Linked DNA regions of Homo sapiens. The protein of the gene in region 2 interacts with the protein of the main gene of each other region in a biochemical or structural test. Each region holds a gene or a part of one and is shown on either strand. Other genes may lie near its edges.

Region 1 (7,881 bases), on a different chromosome or scaffold from region 2:
AAAGAAAAAGTATATGCACAACCATAGCCTTCCTCTTTCAAGAAACTCTCGCAACTTATTTTGCCAGAGAGGAAGATAAATGTTACAATATCTTGCTAACCAATCAGCAACGCTGCAGGCCTCAAACCAGGAAGCTCTGTAAGGTATAGTATTTTAAACTGTGCAAGTAAGACTTTTGTCTCTCAGCTATTTTTTGTTCCCTATGTTTGTAGGATGGAAAGGCAGATGTAAAGTCCCTCATGGCGAAATATAACACGGGGGGCAACCCGACAGAGGATGTCTCAGTCAATAGCCGACCCTTCAGAGTCACAGGGCCAAACTCATCTTCAGGAATACAAGCAAGAAAGAACTTATTCAACAACCAAGGAAATGCCAGCCCTCCTGCAGGACCCAGCAATGTACCTAAGTTTGGGTCCCCAAAGCCACCTGTGGCAGTCAAACCTTCTTCTGAGGAAAAGCCTGACAAGGAACCCAAGCCCCCGTTTCTAAAGCCCACTGGAGCAGGCCAAAGATTCGGAACACCAGCCAGCTTGACCACCAGAGACCCCGAGGCGAAAGTGGGATTTCTGAAACCTGTAGGCCCCAAGCCCATCAACTTGCCCAAAGAAGATTCCAAACCTACATTTCCCTGGCCTCCTGGAAACAAGCCATCTCTTCACAGTGTAAACCAAGACCATGACTTAAAGCCACTAGGCCCGAAATCTGGGCCTACTCCTCCAACCTCAGAAAATGAACAGAAGCAAGCGTTTCCCAAATTGACTGGGGTTAAAGGGAAATTTATGTCAGCATCACAAGATCTTGAACCCAAGCCCCTCTTCCCCAAACCCGCCTTTGGCCAGAAGCCGCCCCTAAGTACCGAGAACTCCCATGAAGACGAAAGCCCCATGAAGAATGTGTCTTCATCAAAAGGGTCCCCAGCTCCCCTGGGAGTCAGGTCCAAAAGCGGCCCTTTAAAACCAGCAAGGGAAGACTCAGAAAATAAAGACCATGCAGGGGAGATTTCAAGTTTGCCCTTTCCTGGAGTGGTTTTGAAACCTGCTGCGAGCAGGGGAGGCCCAGGTCTCTCCAAAAATGGTGAAGAAAAAAAGGAAGATAGGAAGATAGATGCTGCTAAGAACACCTTCCAGAGCAAAATAAATCAGGAAGAGTTGGCCTCAGGGACTCCTCCTGCCAGGTTCCCTAAGGCCCCTTCTAAGCTGACAGTGGGGGGGCCATGGGGCCAAAGTCAGGAAAAGGAAAAGGGAGACAAGAATTCAGCCACCCCGAAACAGAAGCCATTGCCTCCCTTGTTTACCTTGGGTCCACCTCCACCAAAACCCAACAGACCACCAAATGTTGACCTGACGAAATTCCACAAAACCTCTTCTGGAAACAGTGAGTTCTTTTCTCGTTTGCTATTCAGTATGGTTTACTCCAAGGCAGAGAATGTTTTAGCTTCTGGGGAAAGTTTTGTAACAAGGAATGATTCTCTATATCTGGTACTCATATGTGTATAATGAATTTTCTTTGTCTTGTTTTTTTCTTTCATGTGGGAGGTCTGGGAAAGTAGGAAGTCTTCATTCTGTGAGAAAATGCCTTGGTCAGCTGGGGTTTTGTTGGGGGAAGGGAGAGGGAATGCATCCACTTCATTGATACGTGGTTTTGCTTAATGATAACCATTGTATTTACTTCCTTTGTTGGGTTTCATTTCTGTTGAATGAGACTGAGGTATGTTACCCCTATCAACACAGAGGAGTTAGACAGAAAATGAGCTATCCTGTAGGTCAGCAGTTCCCAAAGGGAACAATTTTGACCCCCAGGGGACATTTGGCAATGTATGGAGGCATTTTTGATTGCCACAACTGGAGGGTGCTACTGGCCTCTAGTGAGTAGAAGCTAGGGATGCTATTGAACATCCTACAATGGCCAGGACAGTCCCACAACAAAGAATTATTCAGGCCATAATGTCAATAGTACAGAGATGACAAGCCCTCCTTTAAGTGACTGCAAATATCCACACAATTCATCATGTTTCCTAAGCCCAGTATTCAAATGAGAAAGGAGCAGTACTCATGAAATGGTACTTTGTGTTTCACATTTTAGCTATTTTCCATTTCTCAGTATAAAGTTTTCTGAACTTTTATGATTCATAAAGTAATATATAGTTAGGAAAATGAGCCAGACAAAGGAGTACTTTACTCTCCTTTCGGGTAAATAGTTTAAATTTCTACCAGAGATATCACTGCAATTCTCTTGGATGTGGTACTGAGTGACTGCATGTAAGAAGCTCACACATGCCTGAGATGATTAATATTTTAGGTAAATGATGTGCAACTGTTGTTTATTGTGAGGGGGAAACAAGATGCCTACAGGTGACCACACTACTTGTAGTCGCATCTTTCTCCTTACCGAAGTATGGTCTAGTTAAAGCAATTCTAAGCCTAAAGGTTGTTTTTCGTTTTTGCACTGTAGAAACATCTTGCGATATGTTATCTTCCTGAGTTCAGTATTCTCCTTGTTCGTAAACAGCTTAGTGATCAAGTCCTCTGCTAATTCAAACACACAGAAAGCAAGTTTGGAATGATCCCATGACCATCTGTCTTCCAGAAAGGTTCATCCTTGTTTCACATTGCATCTCCTCCTCATCTGTCATCTTGTTTCATTACCAGGTCATAATTCAGAACTATTATTTTTGTGAGACTTTCTAAAAGGTCCCTTATTTCTCTTATTTCTTCACCTCGGATAAAAAATTTAGTATTATGACCTCCATTTTATGGCTGTGACTTCACACCAGGGAAGGAGTTCTGATGTTAGGCAGAAATCCCTGGGAACTTTCTTCCATCTTTGTTTCACTCCCGCTCCAGTGTGGGTGGTGGCAGAGCATGGTGGTAACACATGTTGCCCGGTGTCACGCTTTTCAGTGAGTTGCCACAAATGCTAACCAAGTCCTCTTTCTGACTCTGAAGGCCTGACAAGGTCTGATTTTTAGTGAAGTAAAGCTACAAGGGACCCAGGCAGAACTGCAGAGCAGACGGAGTTTATCCTTGTTCTCCTTCTCCTCTCCTTTGCAACCCTCCCCTGCTCCTGAATGCTTCCTCACTGTCAGTAGCCCATGCCACAGTTCACATTTTAAATCCTGTCATCAGTGTAACCCCCTCAACATCTGATGCCTTGAGATGTATTATGCTCCAAAATGTATCCTGTTCTCTATTCATTCACCTCTTCCACAAATCAAAACTCAATCCCTCTTAATCTAGATTGACCTCATTTGATATCTGGATTAAGCAATCTGATTCATAACTTTAAACTCTGAATAATACCCCTTTAAAGCATTCACCTTTTTAAAAAGCATTTGAATTCTTTTATCTTTTAAGTAGAAATTACATTCTGACTGAAAAAGCAGTAAGTGTAAAATGGTGTACAGTGAAGCTACCTTTAACCCTTGTCTGCCACTTTCTGGGTCTTTCCAGCCCCTACCCCATAGAAACCACTCTTCTTAATTTCTTATATGTCCATCTGAAGTTTCTTTATGTTCACAGAAGCAAATATGAACATAAATACTACCCCCCACCCCGGCTTTTTACTCATGAAGTAGAATATTATGTGCAATGCTCTGATCCTTGTATTTTTAAAATAAATAAATCCTGTATATCTTTCCACATTTTAATAAAGAGTAACTGATTATTCTCTAGAGTTGCATAATACTTCAGTAAATGGGTGACAAGCTTAATCAATTTAACAATTTGTGTTGTTTCCAAAAGCGTTCTTTTGCAACAATACTGCAGAAAATAAACTCGTGTATGTGTCATAAAGTAAGCATTTATTTTCTGAACACAAAGTTTTTTAAGTCAGGTCTGCTGACTCTTGATCCTGCCACTGCTATTTTTCTTAAACAATGCTAGAAATACTAAGTAATTTACCATTTCATTTAGGAAGGTTAAAATATATCAGAATTAGAAAGTATATGTTCATTTTATATAACTGGATAAGCAATATAAAGAAAAGAATTAAATTTCTGTTGTAGCAAAATTTTTTAAAATTCTGAAATTCTATTTTTTATAATTCTGGAGTATGTAAGTAGAAAATAAATAATTATTAAATAATTAAATAATAATATACATATACGTATACATAAACATGTGGTATATTGTACGTACAGTCTTTAGATGGGAAAATTCTTTATTAAGTGTAATTATCGCCCCCATTTCACAAATGAGTGTTGAGATGTGACATAACCAAATCATATATCTGAGGCTAAAATCCAAGTCTTCAGATTGCAAGTTTAATACTTTCTCCATGTACCATCGTGCCCCTGTATGTATGTTTGCATGTTTATGTTTAAAGCATAAGTGTATTATTTATTTATATAGAATATATATGCAGATATTCCTTGACTTGTGATCGGGTTACATCCTTATAAACATTCTTAAGTTGGAAATATTATAAACTGAAAACACGTTTAATATACCTAACTACCAAATGTCATAGCTTAGCCTAGCCCACCTTAAACATGCTCTGAACACTTACATTAGCCTACAATTGGGCAAAATCATCTCACACAAAGCCTATTTTATAATAAAGTGTTGACTATCTCATGTAATTTATTGAATACTGTACCATGGTTTCTACTGAATGCATATTGCTTTTGTACCATCATAAAGTCAAGTAATCATTAATTTGAACTGTCATAAATAGGGCACCATCTGTGTATGTATACATATTATTACTAATATGTACATGGGATTTTAACTTTTTTCAAAGGACTTTCAAAATGTTTATGTCTTTTATTACTTATAATGTCCCATGAATTAGATACAGCAGTTTAATGAACCCATTTTAAACCAATGTGCAGAGTTGCCAGGTTATCTATTAGTAATGTTATTAATGGTACAGAGCCTAGCATGAGAGTTGTTTGCCATATAATGTAGACTTCAAAGTCAGTGGACCTGGGGTTTAAGCATGACTAATGTACTAGCTATGTGACCTTCGCTTTACCTCTTTCCGTGTATGTCTTTCTTCATTTGAAAAAACGAGTATAATACCACCTACTTCGCCAGCACATTATAATCACTACATGAGATTCGTTGTAAGTGCTTAATACAGAATTTGACATATAATAGTATCAAAATAAGTGAGCATTGTCTATAATTTTATTACTTTTATTAGCATTAAAATTTTATCACCAGCCCCATGATATTCTGATCATCTTATAGTATAAATCATTTTATATTATACTATATTATTCTAGGAATCATGAAACTGCATTTTACTTACTTCTGTTTGTAATATAGAAATGTATTTGTGATTTATGATGCCAGAGTCAAACAATGATTGTTGGAAGAGAGGTTTCCCACCAGAAGTCCATGAAATTTCTGCGCTCAGATGCCTCCTTCCCTACAGCAAAGGCTGGTAGAGAGCAGTAGGCGGCACCCAAGTGGCACTAGGTCACAAGTGCCCCCAGATTTTGCCATCTCCTACTGGCTGAAGCCAAGCGAAGGCATCTGACTCAGCCAAGCAGAGGTGGAGAGGCTGCAAAGCCAGTATAGATGGCTGTTATCCCAAGACACTGGTATTATCAAAGGCAGTTTTCGAAGGTCATTGTTTCCAGAGTGCATTTGCTTTCCCCATTACCTGTCAACCTGGAAGAAATAAATAAATGTGGCCAATGGATTTGCTCTGGATTATGATTGGCCACAGCTGCTTAGATTGGCAACTTCCAGGGAAAATGCTTCTTAGTGTGCTGCTACAGACCCTAAAATTTTTTGAGATTGGAGTTTTTACATGAACTCCAACAAAAAATGCCCTAAACACACCTGACTAGGCATGAATTTTCATATAACAGGGCTTCCAGATAAATTATTTGCTGCATGGTATAATTAGAAAATTATTTATTTGCTTGTAATAAAATGGGAAAGAAGAGAGATTCTATGCTTTAGAAAAAATGAGATTCTATTACTAAATATTTATTCACTAAGATTTAATAGTTATTGACGGGAGCAAAATGAAATGCCTTGCTCAGTGAATGCAGAGACTCCAAAAAGACTATTTTTTCTTGTTAGAAGTAATTATACTAGTGTTCAAATTAACAAACATTCATCTAATAACTCTATATGCCTTTTAAACTAATACTGTTTTCATAGCCTTCTACCTCATTTCTTCCTTTCCAGGTTCTCATCCAATTCTTTAAACCTCTTCCCCAGATATACCCTCCATCTCATCATCTTTGCCCAATGTATTAACTGTTAAAAATATTCATCATTTATTGAGGACTTGCTATATACCACATACACATTATGCCGTTTATTCCTCTCAAGCCATGAATAGGAATTCTATGAGTAAACTAAAGCTCAGAGAGGTTAGGTAACTTGCCCAAAGGCATAACATGACTAAACAAGGCTGGGGTCAATCTCATGTCTTTCTGATTCCGCAGACTGTGTTCCCACCCGCATTCCACTTCCTCGTGCTGGGCTGCCTCTCTTCAAACACAGAATATCACAAGACAATGAATCAAGCATAAATGAAACTCCCAAAATCCTCATTCCTCTCCCTTTCTGTGGCCTTTGGTTGAAACATGCCTTTTGTTTGTTGTCTGTTTTGTAAATACCACTATAAGCTCCATGAAGACAGAAGCCAGTCTGCTTGCCATTCTCTCATTTGGAGTACAAAAGTAATATAAATTTTTGTTAGCTTCTCAAGTTTATTCTTTCACAGAATTCTATTTAACCAGACCGGGTGCGGTGGCTCATGCCTGTAATCCCAGCACTTTGGGAGGCCGAGGCGGGCTGAACACCTGAGATCAGGAGTTCAAGACCAGCCTGGCCAACATGGCGAAACCCCAAAAATACAAAAATTAGCCAGGCATAGTGGTGCGCACCTCCCAGCTACTCAGGAGGCTGGGGCAGGAGAATCATTTGAACCCAGGAGGTGGAGGTTGCAGTGAGCCGAGATTGCACCACTGCACTCCAGCCTGGGTGACAAAGCGAACCCTATCTCAAAAAAAAAAAAAAAAAAAGAAAGAATTATATTTAACTAGAATTTATTTACTCCCAGATTTTGTTCAGTATTAGATTTTAATACTCTATAGCTTAGCAATTGTTTTAACACAATAGATAACCCCTGCCAGTAGACTTGTACTCAACTGAATGGAGCTTGGACACAAAATAAATGTTATAAGAGAGGGTCTATCTTGCAGATCTATTGAGCTCCCTTCCTTGTAAACTGTAAGCTTGACTCTAACATGTTGCTTTCTGATCATGAAGCTAAATTTTTTTTTCCTAAGAACAATTTAAGGTTACAAAAGACTAAACGTTTTTTTTAAAAAAACCCAAAATATCAAAATATTCTCTGAACTAACCTTTCCTTTGCTTCCTTTTGGGTCCTGAGCCAGTTCTGAAAGGGCTTCTTCCCATGTGTCAACACAATGCCTCACCAAAGTTTGGGTTCATAAGAATCCCTGGCCTGACTATTGGTTTGCATGTATGATTTAGTAAAAACCTGCTGGGAAATATTCAGTTTGACCCTTTTTTCTAGTCTTGTTCTTAATACTGCTGAGAGACCAAGACTGATTTTTTCCATATGTTAGCTATAGGAATGATCAGTTAAGCACCTTGACAGCAACAGGTGTAAGGCGAGGGCCCCAGAGGGCATTAACAAAAGACTGATGGCCCCCTCCTCATCTGTGTATGTATCATTTAACTAATCCAGCCTACAACAACTTGAAACCAAAAGGTGCCTGGGCTATTTTCACCAGCAAGTAACTTGTTTCCAGGAGTGGGTAAGATTTTCCTTCACAGGCCCCAAAGCTATCACCTTTCTTTTTCCCCCCATTCTCCTTTTATGTGTACTCTCTTAACATGACCTTATTAGATATTTACATATTGAAAACTGTTTTATATCAGCATG
Region 2 (8,383 bases):
GAAAGACCAGGAAGAAGAGACTGATTATGTTTATATCTGTGGAGCAAAGATTATGCAAACTGCCAGCACTTCATTGTTTTTGTTTTCGGTGTGGTTATCACAGAACAAAAACAAAAAGATAACTTCTACATCTGAAGCCCCATTATTTGAAAACAGACCTGAATATTTCCTCCTCTTTCAATAAAGCAGAAAGCACCCTCCATTTTACTTATCTATGAGGTATTTATTTGTTGATAGGGGACTAGTTACTATTTCTATATGAGAGCTTGACAGAGTCTATCTAAAGAAGCTATTTCCTGAGTTACTCTAGAAACCTCACACTGTTTTGATATTTGCCAAAAATCCAAGATAGCGTGTTTTTTTTTTTTAATTTCTCCACCTTCCATACCCCTCAGGGCTAAAAAGAGAAAAACATGATCACAAGCATAGTAAATGGTCCGTTAGCACTCTGACCTCTCTGAGTTTCTATTTGTCTTTTGTTCCTTTTTCTTTTAAATACCCTTACTGTTTATTTTTTCCTGTTTACAGAAGTAATGCATGGTCATTGTCACAATTCAAACAACACAAAGATGTATGAAATAAAAATTAATAACCTCCCCTCCTCCAAACTCTCAGTCTTCTCTCAAGGAAGCCAATGTTAACAGTCTGGTATATATTCTTTTTTACTTATTCCTAGGCTTACACAAATATTTATAACATATGTGGCTTTTCTTGTTTTGTCTTTTGGTTTTCAAGCAAAAATGGGATATTACATGTACTATCATGCATTTTGCCTTTTAGTCTTAAAAATATGCCATGGACACTTTCCAAGCCTATATATAGATCCACAGAATACTCTTTTAGTGGCTGTGAAGTATTCCATGAGACAAATGTCCCATAATTCATTCAACCATCACCCTGAGTCTCCCAACTTATTAACATTTAGCATAGATCTTCGTGCATATACTACTTCATGACCTTTCACTTCAGTGACAGATTTTTAGAAGTGAGGTTTCTAGGTCGAGTGAAACATTTCCAAGTGTCTCAAATTTTATATTTAAACAAAATTAATTTTAGGCCTTGGGAATTTCTGTTCTCTTCATTATGCAAAATTTTGTTATCTACCTTTCACAATGCTTTACATATTTTATTCTTAAAAGCACACACATTATGTCAAAAAATGCCCCTGTCATTTATGCTTGTGTAGTTATAAATAAATAAATGCTTAAGTTATGGCTGTGATGTCCAGTGTTAAATCACTGTGCAAATGCTTATGCCTTGGTTTATGAAAGTAGTAATTCATTGTGGAAACCCCACCCCCACAGCCATGTGGCAGCACTAGAGTTGCAGCCCTCACATCCTGTGACTCCCTCCCACAGAGTGACTATATAGAGATCAGGACCTCCATTTTTTCTAATTGTCAACAGTTAACCTTAAAAAGTGTGTGGTGGGGGAGACAAATAGCAACAAACAACAAATTGATGGCCATTTTGGGTTTCTAATATGGACAGATTATTTGTAACACAATGAATAATCCTCCTGGTCTACACCAGCGACTGTGTTCCAAAAGAAATAAAACTTGTAACCAATATATTGCTATTATTATTACAGGAACCTTTAAAAAACATATCTTCAAACATTTTTCAATAGAATTACTGGATGAATCACACTTTACATTTTTTTCTCTACTTCAGATTCAAGTTCTAATTGCAAACTTAAAAAAAAAAGCCTTAAAGAAATACATTAACCAACGAAGCTCCTTATAATTTGGTTTCAGACTCCTCCATATATTTTAAAGACCTGAGCACCAACAGAGATTGTTAAGATACAGCAAGCTTGATACAGAAGTATGCGACATGCAATTAATCTCCATTCATACCCCGCTCTACTTGTCAGCAAACAAAGGTTCTGCTTTAGAAGGAGATCTGAAGACTTCAATTAAAAACAGTCAGCTAACAAGAAAATAATCTAAGCTAAAGGAAGGTGGCAGGTGCAGAAATGAGTTGTTTACCAAAGTGTCAGTTTTGAACAATGAAGAACTGCACATCAAAAATGCTGAAGGAATGGATTTCATTGCAAGCCTCTGAAAATAAAAAGGAATTTTCTACCAAGCCTAGACACAAAACTGAAGTATAGTTTAATAAGCTTATAAAATAGGTTTCCTCTCATCAAATGACAGATACCAATAAAAAGAATCAGTTTATATATTTCAATGCAAGGGCAGAGTTAAACTTTTTGCCACAGTCCCTTCTTTCCTAGAAACCAAAGACAATTACAGCCTTCCTTCACAAGCCTAATATTAAACCAACAACAGAGGGAAAGGCTGGATTGTTTCTTCTTAGACACCCAGATAATTCTCTTTTACCCTGCAAATAGTTTTCTACCCCCAAAATTTAGATTTATTCTGATCGTAAGTAAAACGGATTTTGGAAACCTCACCTCAAAAGAAATATCTAGCTGACAGCTTTTACATAGAAGCAATCCAGAATGGAAATAGTGCTACAGACAGAGACCAAAAGGACTTGCCAAATATTTGATTAGGAGGCATTTATACCGAGATAACAAGGTAATGGAGATATAAAACCAATTAAATTGAGAGAAACTGAAAAAAAATACTGCTTGCCAAAAATATGACCTGCCCAAAGCAGGCCGTCTGTTAAATATGTGTCAACTATGTCAACTTAGATGCCAAAAGGCTTAATTCTGAATAGTTTCCTCCTGGGAGCCTTATGCGACTGCAGATTCCAGGCCTCTGTCCTCCCTGGAAGGTTAGTTACAGGAAAGCAAGTAAAAGTGACTTCCACCACGAAACCCAGCAGATGAAACTGCCCGTTAGCAACGTCTCTTTGTGACATCTCTTTGGAGTGTTGGCAGTGTGTGTTGAGTGTTGACGGGGATGGCCGGAACTCTTTAAACCACCGCTTAGACACTGTAGTTGGAAGGTGAACACACCACAATGGGAGTTGGAAGGTGAACACACCACAATGGGGGCACTTCTAGAAAAGGAGGAAATCCCATACTGAGAATGAGCCTGCCTTGGGGTGGGTGAGACCCCTAGACGTCTGCAGGGTGATAAAGGGAGGGCTGGGGTTTTCGCACTGACAAAAACTCACGTCAACCACCTGGCCTTGGCCCATGGGGATCCCATGAGCCCCTCGCAGCCCCCTGGAGAGCCTCGGGGACCTCTAAGCAGGAAGGTTTGGGGTCTTCTGTGAGAGGTGAGGAAGTCGTGGCTGGGGAAGGAGGGGGACGGGAAACCCTACAGATGTAGGGCAGTCCTTTGGAGAAAGGGACAGGTCGGAGACCAGGCAAGGTGGCATGGGGGACCAAGAACCTGGCCTGAGGACTTTAGAAGCCGGGGAGGTGAAGTGGAGGCGTGGAGGTGCCTCAAGGCAAAAGAAGATGTGGGACTCCAGGGAGTGAAAGGGGCCCTGAGGTGAGAGGATGGAAAGCTGGCTCTAGGGAGTTGAGGGCTCTAGAAGCCTTAAGGTTCTAGAAGGAGGTGAGTGACGAAGCCGTAAAGAAAGCCTGGCCGTGGGAGGCCTGGTGTCCCCTTTCGGCCTTCGGCTCAGCACTGGAGGGGGCCTGCGCCAGGGCGTTACCTTCCAGGAGCCAACGGATCTCCTCAGGGAGGGCGGCGGCCTGCATTTGGCTGGGCGGGAGAGAGGCGGGACGGGGCGCGGGCCCTGGTCGGGAGGCGGACGGGCTGGAAGGCGACCCGGCTGCACCGCGAGGCACCTGTACCTCAGCCGCGGTCGCCGCCCGCCCAGCCCGGCCGCGGGGCGGGGCCGTGGGTCCCCGGGCGCGTCAGGAAGTGGCGCGGGCGGCAGGCGGGGACCGGAACGGGGCGCGGGGCGTGGGTGCACGTGGCGCTCACGCCGGAGCCCCACGGTAGAAGGATTGGGGGTGCCGGAAGCACCGCACCGTGCGAGGCCAAAGGTGCGCCCCTCCAGCACCCACCAAAACAAAAGACTTCACAAGGCTCAAAGGACCCACGGCTTTGGACACTCCATCCTAAGCACCGAACAGTTGACCTCACGGTGGCAGATTTGAAAGACCACGGGGTGCCTGAAGTAGGGTGCAGGGAGGCAGAATCCAAGGAAGAGATCCCCGTCAAGCATAGCACCCCTCAATTGCCGGTCCAGTTCACATCTCCATCCCCAGAAAAGAGGGCAAAACTTCGCTCTTTGGGAAGCCACAATGTTGAAAGGAAATGATTAATTCCCAATAAGCAATATAAGGACACCAACATTTGGGAGAATCGCGGCAGCGTGGCAGCAAGGGACACAGGAAACCAAACTGTGCTGTTCTCCCTCAGGATGGAAAGGCCCTGAGGAAAGGAAGGGGTAACACAGGGAGAAAGCTGAGGGAGAGGAGAACAGAGCCCTTTCCCTCCAGGAGCTGCGGAAGGGAGGAAAGTGAAGGACAAAATCACACGGTCTCATTCAAGGGACAGTTGGTGTCAGTGTCCTGGTTGTGACATGGTACTGTAATAGTGCCAGATGTTACCCTTGGGGGAAACTGGGTAAAGGTAGACAGAGTTCCTCTATTATTTCTGAAACTCTCTGTGAATCTATAATTCTCAAAATAAAGAGGTTTTTTAAGTACAATAGGTCAACTGCCATGAAAAAAGTATAAAGTGCTATGGTTGATAAAAGAAGGGAGCTGAATACCAGAAAAGGAGGGAAGAGGCCAGGCATTGTGGCTCACACCTGTAATCACAGCACTTTGGGAGGCTGAAGCAGGAGGATCACTTGAGCCCAGGAATCTGAGGTTACAGCCAACTATGATCACCCCAGTGTACCCCAGCCTGGGCAACAGAGCAAGACCCTGTCTCTTAAAAAAGAAAGAAAATAAAAAGAAGTGCCAGTGTGCATGTGAGTGTTTAAAGGTGCATGTGGTGTTTGAGATGGGCTCTGAAAAACACACCAGACTTTGAAGGGGCAGAGGACTTTCCAGGTGGAAGGACCAGAGTAAAGAAAGATGGAAGAGCCCTCACCAGCTTGAGGAATAGTTAGTAGCCCTCTTTTACTGGATGTTGTAGAAAGACTATGGTTGTCAAGATAAACTGCAGCTCTACTGTGAAGGGACTTGAAAGTCAGAATAGGAATGTTGAACTTAATTGAGAGGGCACTGGGGAGCCATTGACAATTTTTGAGATTGGGAATGACCTAACCAGAGCTCCGGGGTGGTATGTGGCCTCACACATCTCCACCTCTGCCTTTTTCCTTCTTTGTAAAAAATGGCATTTCTATTCTCAGACTCAACCTACAGAATATGTAGAAAAGATTAGGAGTGGTGGGAAAAGACACAGGGGGAAGTGGGTAAAATGGTTTTTACAACAGCCATAAGGGGAATAATGATGGACTCAATCTAGCAGACGGGGCAAGAGCAGTAAGAAGAAACCATCGAGAAGGATGAGTGTGATAAAAGTGCCTGCCTCCTTGTACTGTTTCCCATCCAGAGATACAGCCTCAAAGATGAGGGTGTGATCCTTTAAGGAGTACAGTGCATCCTGCCATCTGAAAAGCAGTGGTGCATTGGTTTCAGTGTCACATGACCCACCTACAAGCTGCAGTAAATTGGGGTGAGGGGACAGAGGCTGGCATGAGCCTCTCTGGGGTATCTGGCTCCTGCTCATCCTCCTTCCTGCCCTGAGAAAGTATAGTAATGGGTGGCTGGGCACAGTGGCTCACGCCTATAATCCCAGCACTTTGGGAGGCCAAGGCAGGCGGATCACGAGGTCAGGAGTTTGAGGTCAGCCTGACCAATATAGTGAAACCCCGTCTCTACTAATAATACAAAAATTAGCTGGGCATGGTGGTGCACGCCTGTAATCCCAGCTACTCGGGTGGCTGAGGCAGGAGAATCACATGAACCCGGGGGGCGGAGGTTGCAGTGAGCCGAGATCAGGCCATTGCACTCTAGCCTGGGTGACAGGGCAAGACTCCATCTCAAAAAAAAGAAAGAAAGAAAGAAAGAAAGTATAGCAATGGGCAGACTACCCCTTTCAGGCTTGGGATCAAGTACCAGGTACCCCCATGGCATTTTTACCAACTTCACCACTTCACCTATAAAATTGTAGCTGCTCTAGAATCATTTTGAAGTACTTATGAGGCATACTAAAAAGCAAGGAAAGATACATGGGAACTGTCTGTGCTATCATCTCAATTTTTTTTTGGTAAATCTAAACTGTTACACAAAAAATACAGCAAGGGCAGCAAAGTCTCCCCATATGTCAACCTAAACTTTGCCTTGCTTTCCTTCTTGGCAACAGAAGAAAATTTGATAACCTCCCCCTCTTCTTCAAGGATATGGTGTCACATACTAATATAAGCTACCAGCTAATGAATTGTTTGATAAAGAGCAGTAAACCCAGGTAATTGCACTTCTTTGCAGGCTTCACTGCCTGTCATAGCTTACTTACACCAAAAACTCACAGTGTACGTATTCTATATGCATCCTTCCTTACAAGAATCTCTGGGTTTTAGAGAGACAGGGGTAGAGGGAGGTGCACAGTCGGGTAGTATGTAGTGAGTGACTGGCAGATTCCAATACGGTATTGTCATGTTGCATCAAGGTTCCTCATTGCAGACAGAAATCTGCCTCCACACATGAACGCAGCCCTTCCTTAATCATCTGAGGACCCTGTTTCAGCAGTCAGCCCCACTCCTAATGACATTCTGTTAAATGGACAAATTCCTTTGAAGCCTTGTCCTTTTTTGAAATCCAATTTCGCAGGAAGCCAAATCTGATTGGGGGTAGCCATGGAAACCACATGGAGGAGTCTTAGAGGAGGTGAAGAGAGGCAAGGCAAAACGTGATAGTCACGAGTCCTTTACTGTTCTGTCAGAAATATCAAAGCAATCTGGAGAGGTTGGCAGTAGCTGAGTCCCTGCCTGGGTCCTGTTCTGTGTGGCTGGGTACTATGTGGCTGTCATGGAAGAAAGCAGCCAGCTGTCTCTGCACACAGGCAGGAGGACAGAACAGAATACACAAATCTCAGGTCTGTCTGCCTCCCTTTTCTTCCCGTCCCCCCCAGACCCAATTCCAGCAAGATCTTAGCATCCTCTTCTTAGCTGCCTGCCCCTTAAAGACAAACAACAAAAGAATGACAAGGTTAAAATACAAGGCCCTCACAGATAAGAGGTCCTTTGGAGCAGAGGCCATGAAATTAATCTGGAATTCCTTGTAATTAGATAAGATAAGGGGATCTAAAGAGATGTAGAACAGCCAGGAATGGAGTCCAGCAGCACAACATGCAGAAAACACACCGCCTTGTCCACCGGGACCCTTCACGCACTGTCAGCAGACAGAAGACACAGAAAATAGGGCCCATATTGGCCTCTGAGCTTCTTGGGAATGCTGTCTACATGTTCTCATGCCAGGTGGGCACTCGCTAAATAGGCATCTATGGGATGTCCAGAGGGACCAATCAGGAAGAAACAAAAGCATCTGGCACCCAGAATGGCATGCAGTGGGAACACAACTGCAAGCAAAGCAGGAGCTGGCTGGCACCGCTCTGCCCTGGCTGAAATGGGTCTGGAGAGGAAACTGCAGAGGGCAGGCTCTGAGGCTTTATTCTGAGCTGGTTATTGATCCCTGAATGCTGGGTCATGACATGTGGCGGAGCTGACGTCTGCCCTATGGATGTGCAGCCACTGCCTCTCAGCCTCTCGGTCCCAACCCCATCAACCGGGTTTATTGACTCTTTTATTGACAATGCTGGGGCCTAATGAGGCCAAGAGCTGCACACTTCATTAAGAGATGTGGAAGGAGAGATGATGCATCCTGTCGGTGCCAAGAACCAGGCTCACTGTATGTTTTGCAAGGCTCCAGAAACCAAGCATCATGCCACCTTGAAGGCAGAGGAGATGGACATAAGATGCTAACTTGGGCACGTTACTTCAGTGGCCTAAAAATGAAGTTTCCACGGCTTGCCAGAAGCCTTGTTCTTACCAATTAGCTAACTCTTCAACTTAGGAGGGTCCTGTTATACACACACTCACACAAATACACTTCCAATGGTCTCCCCTTCCAGCTCACACTCCTAGATTCTCTGCCTTAATACATACAACAAAATAAGCAGCTTCTCATATCACATCAGGAAACAATTCCATAAGCAGGTTCTCAGTGAGGTACAGGCTTGGAACAGTATGAGGGACTATATAAAAACTCAAAAGAATCTTCAAAGGGAGCAAATTCAAGATAAGGAACAGACCCAGCACTATACCCAGGGTCCCCCAGCTTACCAGGAGCTGTGCATTAGAATCAGGTACAAAGCTCTTGTAGAACTGAAAAATACCTAAGATAGATAGTTACAGCCTAGGGATCACTGAGCCACTCTACGAAGTCATCACTGTTGGCCCTCCTCCATCTAAATAGTAATGTTTCATTCCCAGCA

What was found. Proteins that work in one complex are often made in the same cells at the same time.
Region 1: the proteins of SKAP1 (region 2) and FYB1 form a complex in vitro, tested with the Homo sapiens proteins (2 studies listed by BioGRID and IntAct, with this or other methods).

Annotation. Positions count from the first base shown.
Region 1 is NC_000005.10:39,195,319-39,203,199, reverse strand, and holds part of FYB1 (FYN-binding protein 1), read left to right. Parts: intron 1-212; coding exon of another isoform or gene 213-239; coding exon 240-1,374; intron 1,375-7,881. UniProt on the Homo sapiens protein: Acts as an adapter protein of the FYN and LCP2 signaling cascades in T-cells. May play a role in linking T-cell signaling to remodeling of the actin cytoskeleton. Modulates the expression of IL2. Involved in platelet activation.
Region 2 is NC_000017.11:48,426,494-48,434,876, forward strand, and holds the start of SKAP1 (src kinase-associated phosphoprotein 1), read right to left. Parts: upstream 3,722-8,383; 5' UTR 3,628-3,721; coding exon 3,582-3,627; intron 3,440-3,581; exon of another isoform or gene 3,117-3,439; coding exon of another isoform or gene 3,093-3,116; intron 1-3,092. UniProt on the Homo sapiens protein: Positively regulates T-cell receptor signaling by enhancing the MAP kinase pathway. Required for optimal conjugation between T-cells and antigen-presenting cells by promoting the clustering of integrin ITGAL on the surface of T-cells.